Homo sapiens: one gene and its partners. The protein of the gene in region 1 interacts with the protein of each later gene in a pairwise test. Each region holds a gene or a part of one and is shown in the gene's direction. Other genes may lie near its edges.

Region 1 (5,352 bases):
CTTACTGTAGAGTAAACATTTGTAAGGTACCTGATTGAGATTTGAGATCTGCATTTTGTGGCTATGAAGTCTTTTGTTTGCATGGAACTGGTGGACAAAAAACAAATTGGAAATGAAGTTACATACTGCATTGGCAATTACCAAATATATTAACAGAGCTTTCCTATCAAGACTAAGTTCTGGTAGGGCAAGGCAGGCATATTTACTCTCCTATAATTATCCCCTCATAGACCTAGCACAGTGCTGTCACATAGAAGGTACTCGGTGAATTTGAAAATGAAATCATATACGTAGAATAACGCTAGTGTATTGATTTTTTTCAGGTATCATGATTGTCAGTTTTCAGAGCATGATTGGCCTGTACATAACAACTTTGATATTGATGAAGTTCAGCTTGATCCAAGAGCTCTGTCCGATGTCACTGATGAAGAAGAAGTACAAGTTGATCCCCGAAAATATTTGGATGGAGATCGGGAAAAGTATCTGGAGGATCCTGCTTTTGATACCAATTACTCTACTGAGCCTTGTTGGCAATACTCAGATCATCATGAAAACAAATATTGTGATCTGGAGTGTAGCCATACTTGTAACTACAAAACGAGGTCATCATCATATTTAGATAACTTAGTTTGGAGAGAGAGTGAAGTTAACCATTACTATGAACCCAAGCTTATTATAGATCTTTCCAATTGGAAAGAACAAAGCAAAGAAAAATCTGATAAGAAAGGCAAATCAAAATGTGAAAGGAATGGATTGGTTAAAGCCCAGATAGCGCTAGAGGAAGCATCACAGCAACTGGCTGGAAAAGAAAGGGAAAAGAATCAGGGATTTGATTTTGATTCCTTTATTGCAGGAACTATTCAGCTTAGTTCCCAGCATGAGCCTACTGATGTTGTTGATAAATTAAATGACTTGAATAGCTCAGTGTCCCAACTAGAATTGAAAAGTTTGATATCAAAGTCAGTAAGCCAAGAAAAACAGGAAAAAGGAATGGCAAATCTGGCTCAATTAGAAGCCTTGTACCAGTCTTCTTGGGACAGCCAGTTTGTGAGTGGTGGGGAGGACTGTTTTTTCATAAATCAGTTTTGTGAGGTAAGGAAGGATGAACAAGTTGAGAAGGAAAACACTTACACTAGTTACTTGGACAAGTTCTTTAGCAGGAAAGAAGATACTGAAATGCTAGAAACTGAGCCAGTAGAGGATGGGAAGCTTGGGGAGAGAGGACATGAGGAAGGATTTCTGAACAACAGTGGGGAGTTCCTCTTTAACAAGCAGCTCGAGTCCATAGGCATCCCACAGTTTCACAGTCCAGTTGGGTCACCACTTAAGTCAATACAGGCCACATTAACACCTTCTGCTATGAAATCTTCCCCTCAAATTCCTCATCAAACATACAGCAGCATTCTGAAACATCTGAACTAAAACACTCAGCAGACATTTATCTTTGTATTCTTCATGAAATGTGTTTTGTCTTTTTTTATTACTAGTGTTTAAGTCATTTTTTACTTGAATCAGATGGTGTCATTTAGTAAGGATTTTATGAGTTCTTGTTTTTTAAAATCCAGACTTTCTTTTTCTACATGTGAGATAGTTTTCATTTTAACTGGCATGTCATTTGCACACAAAAATAAAGACTAGAGCAAAATAATGCAACGCAGGAGGAGAAAAGAAATGCACTAAGACAAGAACATTCTCTCATAGAACATTGATCTGTTTTACAGGAAACAAACCTTGCCTTGAAATTTACACAGTGAGACTGTACATAATTGCATGAAAATAGCTATTTTTTTCCTAAGACATTTTTCATTCATGAATATTTTCAAGTTTTTCATACTGTACACATTTCTTAAAACACATGATACCAGCAGCAACTGAAAATGAATGCCGAATTTGGTACACATGTGTTATCTACCTCAAGGTAACAAGAGTATGTGGCAAAACATATACCACCCATAGTGCTTCACAAAATGCACTTCTATTTAGCCAGCGTTTATTGTAGTAAACTATTCTTAATAAAACTCACTCACTGTTTATAAATGTTCTGGTATGCATTCTTTATAGTGAAGTGTTAATACATCACATCTTATTTATTTTAGCAAATCAGTATATTTTCTGTATTTAATTATAAAAAATTAACTTAGTTTTTAAAATTTATTTGCAAATATACTTTACTTTTTCCATTTGGCACTATGGTTTGTTGCCTACCTAGCTGCATCTATAATGTCAGCTTATCCTAAGGCTGTCCACGTACTTAATTTACTTAAGTGTTCATTTTAAGTAACGTGCTCACTGTGTATAGGAATTTGTATTTTGGAGGTGCTTGATCTATCTACAAAGAAAAATTAATTAGGAATTACTTTATTATAAAATGCTCCTAGAAGTCTTAATTGTGTTTATTTTTTAAAAAAACAAATGTTAGACTTGTGTGCATGGAAGTAATTAAGGTACATCATTATTGTAGTTTGAAAGTTGTACATGATAAGACATTTTGTTTTTACTGTATGTTTTTACTGAATGATCTATTCCCCATCCCAAGGCAAGCATGAATAAAATTAGGTTAAACGTAGCATGTGGCATCGCAGTCTCTTAGAATTTGTTTCATCTATTTTATTTTATTGAATACTGTCTGTATCTTTGGTTATCCTGTTTGAAGAAAAAGGACAAATAAAACATGGCCAGCAAATACAGCTCCTGTTTCACTCTTGGGTTAATGAAAATTTTCTGCTAGAATGAAAATTACTACCAGAATCACTTTGAATTATGGCCATAAATTGCTAGTCTGAAAGGCTGAGAAGGTTCAAGTCTTTTGACTTAAACCATCACATATTAGAATGGAATAAAGCTTTATAATATTTCAAAACTGTTAGGTAAAATGTGTAGTTGAAACTTTGAACTGTGCAGTCAGAAAACTTGAGATTTGCTCTGTAATACATCTTTGCGTAAGAACTTACCCTTTTACCTATCCAGCTACAAAACCATCCTCTTCACCTCACTTTTCTTTCATCCTTGTTTTGTACAACACCAATTCTATTAATATCTGCCCACCTACCTTCTCAACAACTCCATCCTCTTCACCTCACTTTTCTTTCATCCTTGTTTTGTACAACACCAATTCTATTAATATCTGCCCACCTACCTTCTCAACAACTGACTTCATCTGGATTCACAAAGCCATATATATACACGTGTGTGTGTGTGTGTGTGTGTGTGTGTGTATATATATTCATTTATTTATTTTCTGGTTGAATACTGTCACGTTATTAATTTAAACATACTCAAATTACCTTAAGAGGACAAGCTCTGAAGTGCAGTCATGAGAATTGATTTGTGGGGAAAAAAAAAATGGGACACTTTTAGTTGGAGCTGGGTGGGGTGACAAGTGCAGAGGCTTTGAGTGTCATGAGAGCATCAGACAGGATGTAAAGGAAGCAACGGGCAGCAGACATTGGTCCCTGATCCTCCATTATAACCAATTTTTTGCAAACGTATGTTGATTTTGAGAATAATTAGCTTTGACTCTAAAATGCTGTCTTCCCTGAAGGAGACCTAGGATTTTTCTTACTGGGAAACTTGGCTCCTGGACTTAATCCACATTCGTTAAACTGTCACCTTGGCAGTTTAGTGGCCATCTACACAATGATCTGACTTGTTGGCATTAAAAAGTCCAAACATAGTCATCAAAGGAAGAAGAAAGTAAAACTGAAACCCCTTATATAAAATATGCTTGCTTTAGGGTGACCCAGGCTGAGTACTAAGTTGTAAAGTCAATTTCCAATAAAAATTTTATGTGCCAATTACTTTGTCTCCACTTGCAATCAAAGTATCTTTATAGGGTAATGAAGATGAAATACTCCAAGAGGCAAAGTCTTTCTTTCTCTGCCACCCAGGCTGAAGTGCAGTGGTGTGATCACAGCTCACTGCAACCTTGAACCTAGGCTCAAGTGATCCTCCCACCTCAACCTCTTGAGTACCTAGGAGTAGCTGGCACCTTTGTTAAAGATCATTTGACCATATAGATGAGAATTTATTTCTGGGTTCTCTACTCTGTCTCTTGTCACAGTTTTTGACTGTTTTTTTCCTTTGAGACAGGGTCTTACTCTCTGGCCCAGGCTGCAGTACAGTGACATGATCATAGCTCACTGCAACCTTGACTTCCCAGGCTCAGGCAATCCTGCCTCAGCCTCCTGAGTAGCTGGAGCCACAGGCATGAATCAACATGCCCAGCTAGTTTTTACATTTTTTATAGTACTTTTAAAATTTGTTTATAGAGACAGGGTCTCCCCCATGTCACCCAGGCTGGTCTTGAACCCCTGGGCTCAAGCAATCTTCCTCAGCCTCCCAATGTGCTGGAATTACAGGTGTGAGCCATTGTGCCTGGCGGTAAAGCATTTTTTTCTGACATGAGTATGGCCACCCCTGCTCTATTTTATCATTTGCCTGATAGCTTTAGTTTTAATTGCTACACCACAACGTATTTCTTAAATGACATCTTCCAAAATTTTGCTTCTACCAACATCTTTGCAGTGAGAATTCTTGTGAACATGTGTAAGAGTGTCTTTAGGGCAGATACATAGGAGTAGAGTTGCTACATATCTTCAAGTCTATGAAGATGCCATGTCCCTGTCCAAAAGTGATTGTACTGACTCACATTCCTGCCAGCAATGCACAAGAGTTCTTATTCATCCACATGCCTCCAAGCAAGAAACCAAGTTTCTTCCATTGAATTAATCCTACCAGCTTTGCAATGTTCAGTTTACAGTAGGAATCAGGATTTCTAATTCCAAACAACTGCATGGCTGGAAATCATGACTACACCTTAGGGATCCTTAAGTAGCCACTTCAATGTGAGATTGCCTTGTTTCTCATTTCCTATTGCTCCAGCCACTGCAGCTTGGGAACAGAGGCTTTAAATCTTAAAGGCTGAGCCAATTATGTCATTACACTGGGGTCCATACCTAAGGAGAAGTAGATCATGAATCAAATCGGGTTTTCAAATAAAATCCAAGCAAACATCACCTTTGCTTCTCAGTTAAGACACCTGCATAGTATTGGTTATGAAATTATTTGCAAGCACTGTTTTCCATTTGATACTTTGGTGTGTTTTATATAGAGCACATTTAGTTAGTGATCTAGTCAGCAAGTGGACCGTTGTCTGAACCGCTGACCTGCTCCCAGCCTTTTCAGTACCTGTTTACTATTGAATTAAAAATCAATAGAAGCTCTACCCTAAGTAGGTTCATCATGTATGGCATATTAATCAATTGCAGTTTTACCTGATGCCTCTCCATGTGAGCATTGTTTATCATTCAGATCCTAGTACCTTCTGAGTAGAGAAGAAAGAAGATTGAACCG
Region 2 (3,177 bases), 9.5 Mb from region 1:
GGTTTGTCCTCAGCTGTTGCATCTGGGAACTTAGATATCAGAAGGTATCTTAGTCTGTTCTGCTGTCATAACAGAATTACACAAACTAAGTATTTTATAATGAACAGAAGTTTATTTGGTTGACAGGTGTGGAGGCTAGGCAGTCCAAGAACATGGTGCCAGCATCTAGTGAGGGTCTTGCCATGGCAGAAGGCACCACATGGCAAGTGAGCATGAGAAAGATATATGGGTCTAAACTTAGCCTTTTATCATGAGCCCACTCCCAAGATAGCAGCACTAATTCATTAATGAGGGCAAAGCCCTCCTTACCTAATTACTTTTTAAAGGTCTCATAACACTTTTACAATGTCAATTAAATTTCCAACACTTGAACTTTGGGGGACATATTTAAACCTTAACAGGAGGGCTCCACTCACTGAAAAGAGTCGTTCATGGTAGCTAACCTGTGGTTTGTGCTGAAAACCTGCTTTCTTCCTGGGAGTCTAGAATTTTGGTACATGGTAGGTAGAAGGTACCTACGTGACCAGCCCCCAGTAAAAACCCTGGGCACTGTATCTCTAACAAGTTTCCCTGGTAAACAACATTTCTCACATGTTGTCACAATTCAGTTGCTGGTGGAATGAAACAACAGATATGTGTGACTCCACTGTTAGAGGACTCTGGAAGCTTATACCTGGTTTCCCCCAGACTTTGCCTCTGTACCTTTTCTCTTTGCTGTTTTGCTTCATATGCTTTTGCTGTAATAAATCATAGCTGTGTGATGATATGCTGAGTCTTGTGAATTCTCCTAGCAAATCATGGAACCTGGAGGTAGTCTTGGAGACCCTGGCATACAAAGCAGTTCCTAAGTGTTTACTGGTAGCTGTAGGAATAGGCAAAGAAGAAACAGCAAAGAAAAAGGCACACTGTGGTATAACTTTGGAGGTTTACCTTGCAAAATGCTCAGATATTTTACCTATCAGAGGTTATTGTGCATATAATAGAGAGTGATATACTAACAACTGCCTCAGGATATACTCTTTTTAATCAGTATTGTAACTAACCTTGGCTTATTTTACTTTTAGACTTGGGGTTCTATTTTGCTTTAAAACATGTACATCAGTTTTGTTTTTTGTTTTGTTCTTTTCTTTCCTTTTTTTTTTTTTTTTTTTAAAGACAGGATCTCACTCTGTCACCCAGGTTGCTGAGAGTGTGGTGTGGCCCAATCTTGACCTCACTGCAGCCTTGACCTCTCAGGCTCAAGTGATCCTCCCACCTCAGCCTCCCAAGTAGCTGGGACTATAGGCACGCGCCACCACGCCTGGCTAATTTTTGTATTTTCTGTAGAGACAGAGTTTTGCCATGTTGTTGAGGCTGGTCTTGAACTCCTGGGTTCAAACGACCCTCCCGCCTCAGCCTCCGAAAGTGCTGGGAGTACAGGTGTTAGCCACTGCGCCTGGCCTCATTGTACTCCTTAACACAAGAAGACTTCAACAATGATAAGTAGTTGTTTATAAGGAAGCAGGATCATTACCAAAATAAATCCTGCTAAAACAACAGGAATCATGTTTTAAAGCCTAGTTTGCTAATTTTTGCTAGTAGGATAAGAGTGATCGTAATATCTCGAACATTACATAGACACTTAAAACCTTTAGTTGTATTTCATCAAAAATCTGTTCATACCCCACGTTGGTTTCAAAACATACTATGCTTTTTCTTCGTGTTATTTCCTATATTCATTTTTGTGTGTATGTGTATGTCACAAATATTGATATGCCTGGTTGTTTATTTTTGTTTTCTATTATGCCTTTTTCAAAATATAAAAATAAACTTGTAATTTCTAACTAAAATTTTTTAGTCCTAGTCTGAATTTAAAGTGATAGAAAGGACTGATGCACTGTTTAACTTATACAGTATAGGCATATAGGCTCTCAGAATCAAAAGAGCTTGAGGTAAGTTAAGCCTGAGGTCTACTTCAAAGAGAAAGCTAATTTAATACTCTTCCAGAGTCAATCAGTGCTGATTAATTTTTCTTTAATTATTCAACTTTTAGATGTGTGGATATTAAAAAAAAATTAGCTCTGCATGCCTTTTTTTGTTGTTGTTGTTGTTCTTGTTTTTTAGATGGTCTTGCTCTCACCCAGGCTGGAGTGCAGTGGCACAATCATAGCCCACTGCACTCTGAACCTCCTGGGCTCAATGGATCCTTCCACCTCAGCCTCCCAAGTAGCTGGGACTACAACTGTGCCCCACCACACCCAGCTAACTTTTAAATTTTTTTGTTGAGATGAGGTCTCGTCGTGTTGCCCAGGCTGGTCTTGAACTCCTGGGTTCAAGCAATCTTGGCCTCCCAAAGTGCTGGGATTACAGGTGTTAGCCCCTTGCACCTAGCCTGAATGTCTGTGTTTCCTACTTACACTAGAAGAGGTGTGTGAGATTTGCAAATTTATTGCCAGCATAACAGTGATGCCAGTTTGTGAAGACCATTCTGGAGGAATTGAGATGCTGCCTGGTTTTCCTAGCATTTTTCTTATTTTCTTTCTTTCTCTATGTGACTCTACCAGTCTGACCCCTGATTTATCCTCTGAAACCCTCAATGAAGTCAGGAACAGTCTGAGGAATAGCAGAACCTAAAAGATTTCTTGACATGCAAAATCTATAATAGAGTTGAGATTTTAATAAGACTGTAATTAGTGTATTGTGGGATTTCTTCACATATCTGTAAAACACATGAATTTACATAAAAGATTTATCTCACAATTTGGGGAATCCACTAATTGAGTTTACTAAAAAAATTATGCATTAGACCCTTGAACAATATAAGCTTGAAGTGCATATGCAATTTTTTTTTTTTTTTTGAGACAGGGTCTCACTGTCACCAGGCTGGAGTGCAGTAGTGTCATCTCAGCTCACTGCAACCTCCGCCTCCTGGGTTTGAGCAATTCTCCTGCCTCGGCCTCCCAAGTAGCTGGGATTACAGGTGCACACCACCATGCCCGGCTAATTTTTGTATTTTTAGTAGAGACAGGGTTTCACCATGTTGGCCAGGATGGTCTCGATCTTTTGACCTCGTGATCCACCCACCTCGGCCTCCCAAAATGCTGGGATTACAGGAGTGAGCCACAGTGCCCAGCCACAATTTTTTTTTCAATAAATATATTGGAAATTTGGAGCTTTGTGACAACTTGAAAAATTCAC
Region 3 (4,348 bases), on another chromosome or scaffold:
TCCCTGTTCAAGCAGTGTTTCAGGGTAGTCCTGGGATAAATTTAGCAGGAGAGACAATACAGAAAGGGCACTTGGGCCCTGAAATATAAAAGCTTCCTAAAAAAGACAAAAACTGAACATAAAGTATCTTCTTTCAGTTTAAACAACTTTCTGTAATCTTACTCTACCTTCTCTCTCTCTCTCTCCTTATTTTTTTCCTTTGTTCCACTTTTCCACCCTCTTCCTACTCATCCATCTCCAATACCTGATATTGTCCTCTTTTTCTTGCCACTATTTTCCTGTACCCCACAGAGACAGAGGTAAGAGTGAAGCTCTAAGTCCTACCTTTGGCCCTGGGGACAAGTAGCAGCAGTGGGATTCTTCTCTACCTTCCCACTGTAATCTCCCAGCTGGTCCAAGAGGGGAAAAGGTGGACTCTCAGCTCTGTAGGATGAATAGAACAAGAGCCTTTGGGCATGGTAAGTGGGTTTTCCTTTCCCATGCCATGAAAATCCCACTCAGTTCATCTTAGGTAACAGTGGGGGCAGATGAACATAATGTATCTAAATGAAAAGACAACCAAACCCAGACCTAAGTGAAAGTATTTCTATTAAAGTTCATTGAGAATATGTTTCAATTTTATTCTTTTCAGTATCATAAAGGGGAATTAAGACTGTATGATGTGACTTTTGAAAATGCCGGAATGTATCAGTGCATAGCTGAAAACACATATGGAGCCATTTATGCAAATGCTGAGTTGAAGATCTTGGGTCAGTATCATTTCTAATTTCTGTTAAACATTGTTAAAGCAATATGTCATATCACACAAAATGTTTATTGAGCCTACACAAAATACCCAGTATTGTGTTAGGTGTACAACATATGTTGGTTGTTTACTGATTTATTTATTGCTAATTATCATAATTCAGACTAACGAAACAATGGAATAGAATGAATCTTTGCCACAACAAAAGTCTTCTTCAGAGCATCAGCAGCAGTGGCCATACCTAGGAGCACATTAGAAGTGCAGAATCCCAGGCTCACCCCAGACCTACTGAATGGACACTTTAAAAAGATACCCAGATGATTTTAATACAAAGATAATTTTGAGAATGACCAGACCAGAGGATGAAGAGTCAAAACCCAGATGAAGATATGCTTAGGCCTAGAAAAGCCTCCAGAAAGTACATAGTTACGGATGATTGTAATGTGTTGAAATATATGGATGAAATCTGCTTGGAGTCTGCCAAGGGAAGAGGAGAGTGAGCAGTGGATTAAATGTGTGGATGCTGAGGAAAGTCTGAGCATGACATCAATGAAGTAACCTTTTTTAAGCCTCTGTATTCTGTTCTAATAATTATTGCTCTGTACTTGGAGGTAATGATGAACTACAAATGATCATGTCTCCTTAATTAGTTGATTAGATCCATTATTCCCATAGCTGTTTATAGATAGATCCTGAAAGCAGGACTCCAATTATTTTGGCATTTTGCAGGGTGTTTGCATACAGATGATGCTCAGTAATTGTATAAAGAAGGAGAGACTGCATTGTTTAATGAAAAGTACATGCTTTGGAAACAGAAGGACCTAGATTCAAATGTGACTCCCACTTATTACTACCTGTGGTACCTTTGCCAAATTAAATAATCCTAATAGATTTCAATTTTCTCATTTATAAACTGGGAATAGTTCATTCAACATGTGGTTTAGAGGATTGACTAGGACCATATGTCAGTGTGTATAATGCTGGTCAATTTTTTCCAGCCTTTCACTTTACTTTCCTTGTGGAATTGAGTCAAAGCAACAGAATTCAGAGTTAATTTTAAGGTAAATGTGTATAAAACATTTGATTGAAATTGAAGTTATTTATTTATTGAGACAGGGTCTCACGGTGTTGCCCAGCCTGGAGTGCAGTGAGGCGATCACGCTTCACTGCAGCCTTGACCTTCTAGGTTCAGGTGATCCTCCACCTCAGCCTCCTGGATAGCTGGGACTACAGGCATGCACCAACATGCCCAGCTAATTTTTTTGTATTTTAGGTAGAGATGGAGTTTTGCCGTGTTACCCAGTCTGCTCTCAAACTCCTGGGTAAGCCATCTGCCCACCTCAGCCTCTGAAACTGCTGGGATTATAGGTGTGAGCCACCCATGCCTGGATTCTAATTAAAGTTTCTAATAATCAATTCAGTTATCATCAAGAATTGTACATTTGAATTGGGTGAATTTTATAAGTCAAAGTTATTAAATAAAAGTTACAAAGCATTAGGTATAGAATGCCTATTGGTGACAGCTGATCATATTTACCGAGATTAATCCTTTCCATTAACTATTAAGGAGAATAAAAGATTCTACAACACAGAAGCAATGTTTAGGCTTTACAAACAGAAAGAGAAAGATAACAATTTGTTTTCTTTTTAGCGTTGGCTCCAACTTTTGAAATGAATCCTATGAAGAAAAAGATCCTGGCTGCTAAAGGTGGAAGGGTGATAATTGAATGCAAACCTAAAGCTGCACCGAAACCAAAGTTTTCATGGAGTAAAGGGACAGAGTGGCTTGTCAATAGCAGCAGGTCAGTGCTGAAACTAGAAATCCAATTGCAAAATCTGTTTGAAAAAGTTTATTTTATAGAAGACTTGTTTATATGTTAATAATGAAAATGTTTTTTGCTCTGAATTTTTTTTTTCACAGAAGATCCTGTAGTTCTAAGATGGACAGAAATACCTATCCCTGTCAGTATCTATTATAATGAAGGTTTAATTAACAGGACTCTATAATGTATAAGGAATTTAGAAAATTGAAGCTCAGAGGTGTTTTTTTGTTGTCTTGTTGTTATAAATTGCCCAATGTCACACAGCTAATAAACAATGGGAAATAAAGTAGGATCTCTCTAACATATTTTTCCCCAGTATAGGCATCTGGCATCTATATCCATTCATATTCAACTGAATTTTGTGCAGTTAGCCTATTAAATATTTTTGTAGAAAAATAAAAAGGTGATTTCAAAGTGCAAATAATCTCTTCCTATCTCAAAATGAACAAGATGTTATCATCATCTTCCTTATAAATGGACCATCTACCAATGTTTTGGTGGTTTGGGGACAAAATGAAAAAGCAGTGTACAACTTATATAGATTATTTGTATAAAAGCCACACTGAATAGTTTATATGTATCCTAGAAGAAGTAATATTGAGTGCAAAAATTATGACGAGGAGAAAGCCAGGATGGGAAATGGGAGGGATGGGATGTGTGGGTTGGCTTGAGGGTGTATGTGAGGGTGTATGTGAGGGTGTATGTGAATGTGAGGGCAGCATGTACAAAGGCCCTATGGTGAGGAGTTTAGAATGTGTAAGAAATTGCAGAAACTGAAATCAGTGTGATTTGTCTTTAGAGGAAAATGGAGGAGACTTTTAAGAGATGAGACATAGTAAGCCACATCATAAATGACAAAGTTTTCTATGCTAAGGGGCTTGGGCTTCATCTAAGAGTAATATAAATCTGTTTAAAGTCTTAAACAAGGGAGGACAAGGATCACTTTTGTCATTTGAAAGACTGTTATTACTCAGATGTAGAAAATACATTATTTTCTTCACAGTAACCCAATAAAGTAACATGGGAATTATCATCCATATTTTGATGTGTCTAAAGCTTGGTAAAGTTAAAGTGACCTTCTGCAAAAATATATTCATGCTATCTAAACTAGAACTTGAAGTTGTAAGACATTGATATAAATTGAGAATATGCCAGCACAGCCCTCTTATTAGGATGAGCACAGGCACGGCTGTTTATGGAATGGGGCAAGAGGGCAGGGACATCAGGGGCTTCCCTGAACACACTGACTTTTAAAGTTAATATGTTTGACCTCAGGGTTGTTAAGATTTTAACAAAATGATACTACAAGAAGGGTTAAAGGAAAAGTCCATTTGTTCAATTTGCCGCTGAAACATTAATGGTCAGACAATGAGCAATGCAGAGACCATGATCAAAGGGCAGCTACATGTGTAGGTGCTTACTCCTTCCACAGCCTAGAGCAGGGCATTCCCCAATGGACAAACCATTAGTTCTCTTCCGTGATAATAAAATCTTTTTCTGATTCTGATGAAGACCCATGTCATGGACCTCTTCAACCAAGGATTTCCCAGAACTATGTTTCATGGACTTGTTTTTCCTAAATATCAATATGTGTTCAAAAAAAGAAGAGAAAGATCTAGCTCCTGAAATTTTACAAGTTTGATTGTGTTCTGATATTTTTAAAGCCTTTGAAATCAAATTGCATTATTTCCTTGATTAAAGAGTCTATAAATCTAATTTTTACTTAGTACTTTAACCCATTACTATCTCAGTGTAAATACTATTTAATAGTAGATATAGT
Region 4 (4,941 bases), on another chromosome or scaffold:
GGAAGACTCAAGGAGTTGGGGCGTCTCTGTGTTTGTGCACTGCTAGGTCCCTAATGCCTGGTGTGGTGCCTGGCACACACTCGACTCTGCACACAGTCTGAATGAATGAATGAGTCCTTTCTTTAGAGGTGACTGATGCTGCTGAAATAACTGCTGCTAAGAGCCCAAAGCTCTGTGTGGAGTGAACATCCACTTTATTCCCCCTCCCCACCACCACCCCGCTCAGTTCTGTCCTTGGCGCTTAACCGGGATTTCGTCCACACTGCCAGCGCTCACACTGCACTCCCAGGCCCTGCTGTAGGTGCTAATCTGATGGGGGCAGCCTTAGGGAGGGCTCTGTCCCCAGCAGGAGGACCCTTGGTGAGCGACTCTCCCCGCTTGCCCCCACCCCTTCCAGCACCTGCAAAGGGGGCTTAGAGCGGGGCTGCCCCATGGGGTTGAGAAATTGAAATGGGGGTGTCCTCCCCCAGGTGTCTCTGTGGTCCTTGAATCCTGGTGTCTGTTGAAATGCCTCCTCCTCTGGGCACCTTCCAGGACCAGGCCAGGTGACACCACCATTCCACCCCCGTCTCTACCCCTTTCCTGGACTTTCTTCCTTCCCTGCCCTGGCTGGGGAAGCAGCGGCTGCCTGCCTGTGTTCACCCCACACCACCGCTGGGGTTGTGAGAATCGCTCCTTAGCACCCTGGAGGACACCTCTGTGAGTGGCAGCCCTGGGGGGTGTCGCCTCCCTTGCCTGGCCCCTCAGGTTCCTAAGGGCGTCTGAGGAAAAGCCTCATTGGAAAGCGCCCGTGCCCTCCTCCCTCTCCCCCGCCCCCCCGCCCCCCGGCAGGGAGGAGGGTTCGGAGCGAGGGTTCGGAGGGTCCGGGGTGCCCTAGCAGGCCCAGGCCAGGTGGTTGCGGGGAGGAAGCCTCAGGTCGCTCCCCTCCGGTGCCGGGGTGGGCGCGTCGGGACCCACTGGCCTCCCAGTCCCAGGAGAGGAAGGACCAGGGAAACCAGCTGTCTGCAGCTGCTGGGGAAATTAGGGGCTCTCAGGGTTCCCTTTCCTCCGGGAGGGGAGGAAACGGGACTAGGAAGCTTTCCTGTTTCTAGAGCACGGCTTGGTGGGGTGGGCGGCTCCTAACCCGGGGTCCAGCCCCTCCTCCCCCACCCCGGCGCGCGGTCCAGGTATGTGCGACCCCTCCCAGTGGCCACGCGCCTTCTCACGCCCCTCTCCCGTGACGTCATGCTCCTCTCGCGCGGCATGATGGGAGAATCCTAATGTTTTCCAACAGATGCTCCAAGAACAGCTTTCAGATTAAAGCAATTGCAAGAGCAAAGATTCTTCCTTTTCCCTTTTTTCCTGGGGGGGTGGGGGGTGGGGTGGGGGGAGGGAGCGCCCCCAGACATTCCAGGACATCACCCCCTGCCCCAAGCACGCAATAAACACTGACAAGAAAAAGTTTTTATTTCCTGGTTCAACTTTTTTTTTTTTCCCTGGAATATAGACTGAAGAATGGGAATAAACACGAATAAATAACAAAGCGAGGCCGCGCACGCCGGGATGCGCCTGGCTGCAGCCGGCGAGGCTATTGTCTCCCCGCCCTGAAGCCAGCCCCGGCGTCTTTCTCCAGCTCGTTTCCTTTCCCGGCCTTTTTTTTTTTTTTTTTTTTTTAATTTTCTTTTTTAAAAAGACGCCCCCTCCAGCCCCCTCGCCGGTGACCTTGGCCGCCTCGGATGCTCTGATTCCACGCGGCTCGCTCTAACTTGCCCCCGCGCCGGCCGGGCCCATGGCCGCGTCGGAGGACGGGAGCGGCTGCCTCGTGTCGCGGGGCCGCTCGCAGAGTGACCCCAGCGTCCTCACCGACTCCTCGGCCACCTCCTCCGCGGACGCCGGGGAGAACCCAGGTAACGGGCTGGGCGGGGGCGGCGGGCGGGTCGGGGAGGCCCGAGGCAGGTGGCGCTGAGAGCAGGACCCCGCGAGGCTCCGCGCCCCGCCTGCATTCGGGGAGCCGCGGCAGGAACCCGCGCTCGGCCCCGCGGTTCCTATCCCCAGTCTCGCAGGGCTGGGGCGCCTCGGAGCCCTTTGTCCATAAAAGAGCTGATTTCCTGGGTAGAGCCGGGCGCTGCAGCTTCCCCTCCTCTCCGGCTGGTGAGCTCTGCCGTCCCCTCGAAGGAGGCTTCCTTTCCTCGGGTGCTGACCGGCTGGGGGAAGAGAGGCAGACCCGTGGCCGCCTCCGCCCAGCGCCGGTTCTGGGCCATTCCCTCCCTCCCCACTGCCGGGCCCCAGCTCCGGACGTCCCCGCTTGGGCATCTGCTCCTGGAAGGCAGCGCTCCGCAGCTGAGGCCACCGCGCTGAGGGCTTCCACCAGGCGCCTGACTCCAGCGGGGCCTGGCGCACCTGGGCGCGCTAGCCCCCGGACAGGTGTGCTGGGCAGAGCCGCCGGCAGGGAGACGAAGGGCGTGCGCCAGGACAGAGCCCGGTTTCGTGACAGCGTGTGGACTCCGTCCACTCTTCCACCCCCATGGCAGCGTTGATTGTTTAGGTGATAAACCGGTCACAAAGGCGTCTATAGGGCTTGATTGATTACTTTCCAGAGAGGAAGAAAGGCCTAATAAAGCGGGGGGGGAGGTGGGGGGGGGGGTGGGCTGTGTGCGCCTGTCACCATGGAGACGCAGGAAGCAAAGTGATCATTAAAACCTCTCTCCACCAGAAGGCAATTTTCACTTCACAGGGAGAAGTCTGGGCTTCTGAAATGTAGGGTTCAAAAAAAGAATCAAAGCTGGTGTTTTGGTATCAAGCCACAGGACTCAGTTTTGTATCTTAGAGAAGCACAATTCCTTCGTAGATTCTGTTTTGATAACAAGTTGCTTCGCCTGCCTTTGAAGACTTATTCTCTCTAAATGCAACGACCCCAGATGGGGACTTGATGATGTTAAATGGTGGGCATCAGAATCCCTGGGGCCCGGGTGAAGGCTGGCTTTGTGGGGAGGGATTCCTGCACTGGAACACACCAGAGCTTCCCGATAAACTGCCTAGAGGACTCATTACAGGCAGCTGTGTGGGCACTGGATCCCTCCCCCCCCCATTTGAAAATTTAAACAATAAACCCGGGCAAGTATTGGAAGATTTCTTTGTTAAGACTATTGACACTGTGTCACTTGGTCAAACTAAGGTACCGGCCTGAATAAATCTCTGACTTTTCTTTATCTGGGAGGGCAGGTTAATTTCCTTAGAGTTTCAAGCAGAGGCTGCCATGGCCGACCCTTAAGGTTTTAATTAATCCTTTTACTAGGAATGGGGGATTCAGCCTTCAGCACTCCATGATGGATTGCCTTTCTCTGGGTTGGAGAGGCGCATCCACAACTGTTCCAATCATGGAAGTTGAGTGGCTTCTCATGAGAATCCTTCTAAGCTCCCTTTGTCTCCCTGGCAGTAAGAGGAAGCAAACTTGAAATGGAAATTATGGAGGACTTGGCTTTTTGGCTGTATGTGAGTTTATGCCTCTGTGGGTGGGAGCGGAGGGTTGGGCAGGTGGTGCCGGTCCATGAGAGAAGGAGGAGGAAGGGCTGGGATGCCTGTGATTAAGTTATGCGTGGGAGGGCACAGGCTTGAGCTCTCCTCTGGTGCAACTGGTCTAAATGGGACCCAGAGAACAGGTGTCAGAGGTGAAAAGTCTAAAATATGTGCAATTCTGTGAGCAGTAGAACCTTACTAAAAAGCACCAAGCAATTAAGTATTTATGGATTGTGTGAAGCAGATTGTGTTTCTGTTCTGGCAGAAAGAGAATCAGAATCATCAAGTTGGAGGGAACTTGGGAACTTGATGGAGGAAGGGCGGGCTCAGGGAGTATTTTCTGTAAGCACCTTGCCTGGCTGGCCTGGTGTGTGCCTGCATACTTCTTTTGATGGTGGACTCAGTTCTTCCTGATGTAGTGCATACTTGTCTTTGGGCAGATCTGTTTAAGAATTCTTTTTCCAATGGTTCCAAAGGGTCTGGTACCCATCAGTCCTGATGGGATCTTCTCCTGCTGGGTGTTACTCAGGGCTTTCAGAGAGCCTGGGGTTTTAGGTATTGAAACAACCTCAGTCACTTCTTGGAAAGTCTAGGCCCTTCACCTGCTCTTCCTAGATAGCCTCCCTTATTTGTCCACCTGCTGCTCTAATGTGAGACTCCTGAAAATTGAACCTGAAGCTCCAGCTGTGGAATAACCTCACACAGAGTTAAGAAGCAGAGCTGTCTCCTCCCATCTAAATTCTATAATTTAATGAAAGAGTCCAAGGTTGCGTTCACCCTTTCCCCTGCAAAGGCATTTTTAATGCATCAGTATTTGCAAAGACTCAAAGCATTCTTCAAAAGGTGAGCTATGTTTTGACACCTCTTTCTCCCATTTTCCAGAGGTTACCCCTGCTGGGAATTGAGGGGCATCCTTTGGACTTTTCCTAATGTTTTATATACTTGTGTTGCTTGGAAAATGGCATATGGGAATGTGCTGGACTCATGGCTCTTCCATGAGTGGTTCTGCTCCACACTGGGTCTCGGAGATCTTGCCTCATTGCAATATCCATCTCCCTTTCCCTTTTAACACCCACACAGGATGCCAAGAAACAATTTTTCAGTTTAGCCATTGGATATTTGTATTGTTTCCAGTTTTTACCCACTACAGACAACACAGCTGTAATTACCTGGGCACAAACTGCCTTGTACTCACCTGAGAATTTCCTCTAGGGTGGGTGTGTGCCAGCTCTTGGGATGTTGAGGCCACAGGGGACCCACATATTTTATTTTAATGATATTGCACTCTCCTAGAAAATGTACGAATTCACACTTTCCGTAATCTATGAGAGTGCCCTTTCTCCAAACCCTTGCCAACACCTGAGATCATCAATCTATTTTTCTCTAGCATGAAGGGTGACAAATGGTTTCTTGTTGTGTTAATTTGCAGTTCCCTGATTGCTAGTG

What was found.
Region 2: the proteins of MAPK6 (region 1) and HAUS2 interact in a two-hybrid assay, tested with the Homo sapiens proteins (one large-scale study listed by BioGRID and IntAct).
Region 3: the proteins of MAPK6 (region 1) and CNTN1 interact in a two-hybrid assay, tested with the Homo sapiens proteins (one large-scale study listed by BioGRID and IntAct).
Region 4: the proteins of MAPK6 (region 1) and PHACTR3 interact in a two-hybrid assay, tested with the Homo sapiens proteins (one large-scale study listed by BioGRID and IntAct).

The regions. Positions count from the first base shown.
Region 1 is NC_000015.10:52,063,579-52,068,930, forward strand, and holds the end of MAPK6 (mitogen-activated protein kinase 6), read left to right. Parts: intron 1-323; coding exon 324-1,422; 3' UTR 1,423-3,797; downstream 3,798-5,352. UniProt on the Homo sapiens protein: Atypical MAPK protein. Phosphorylates microtubule-associated protein 2 (MAP2) and MAPKAPK5.
Region 2 is NC_000015.10:42,568,166-42,571,342, forward strand, and holds the end of HAUS2 (HAUS augmin-like complex subunit 2), read left to right. Parts: 3' UTR 1-1,829; downstream 1,830-3,177.
Region 3 is NC_000012.12:40,936,939-40,941,286, forward strand, and holds part of CNTN1 (contactin-1 isoform 1 precursor), read left to right. Parts: intron 1-631; coding exon 632-749; intron 750-2,396; coding exon 2,397-2,547; intron 2,548-4,348. UniProt on the Homo sapiens protein: Contactins mediate cell surface interactions during nervous system development.
Region 4 is NC_000020.11:59,603,247-59,608,187, forward strand, and holds the start of PHACTR3 (phosphatase and actin regulator 3), read left to right. Parts: upstream 1-1,293; 5' UTR 1,294-1,768; coding exon 1,769-1,886; intron 1,887-1,985; exon of another isoform or gene 1,986-2,130; intron 2,131-4,941.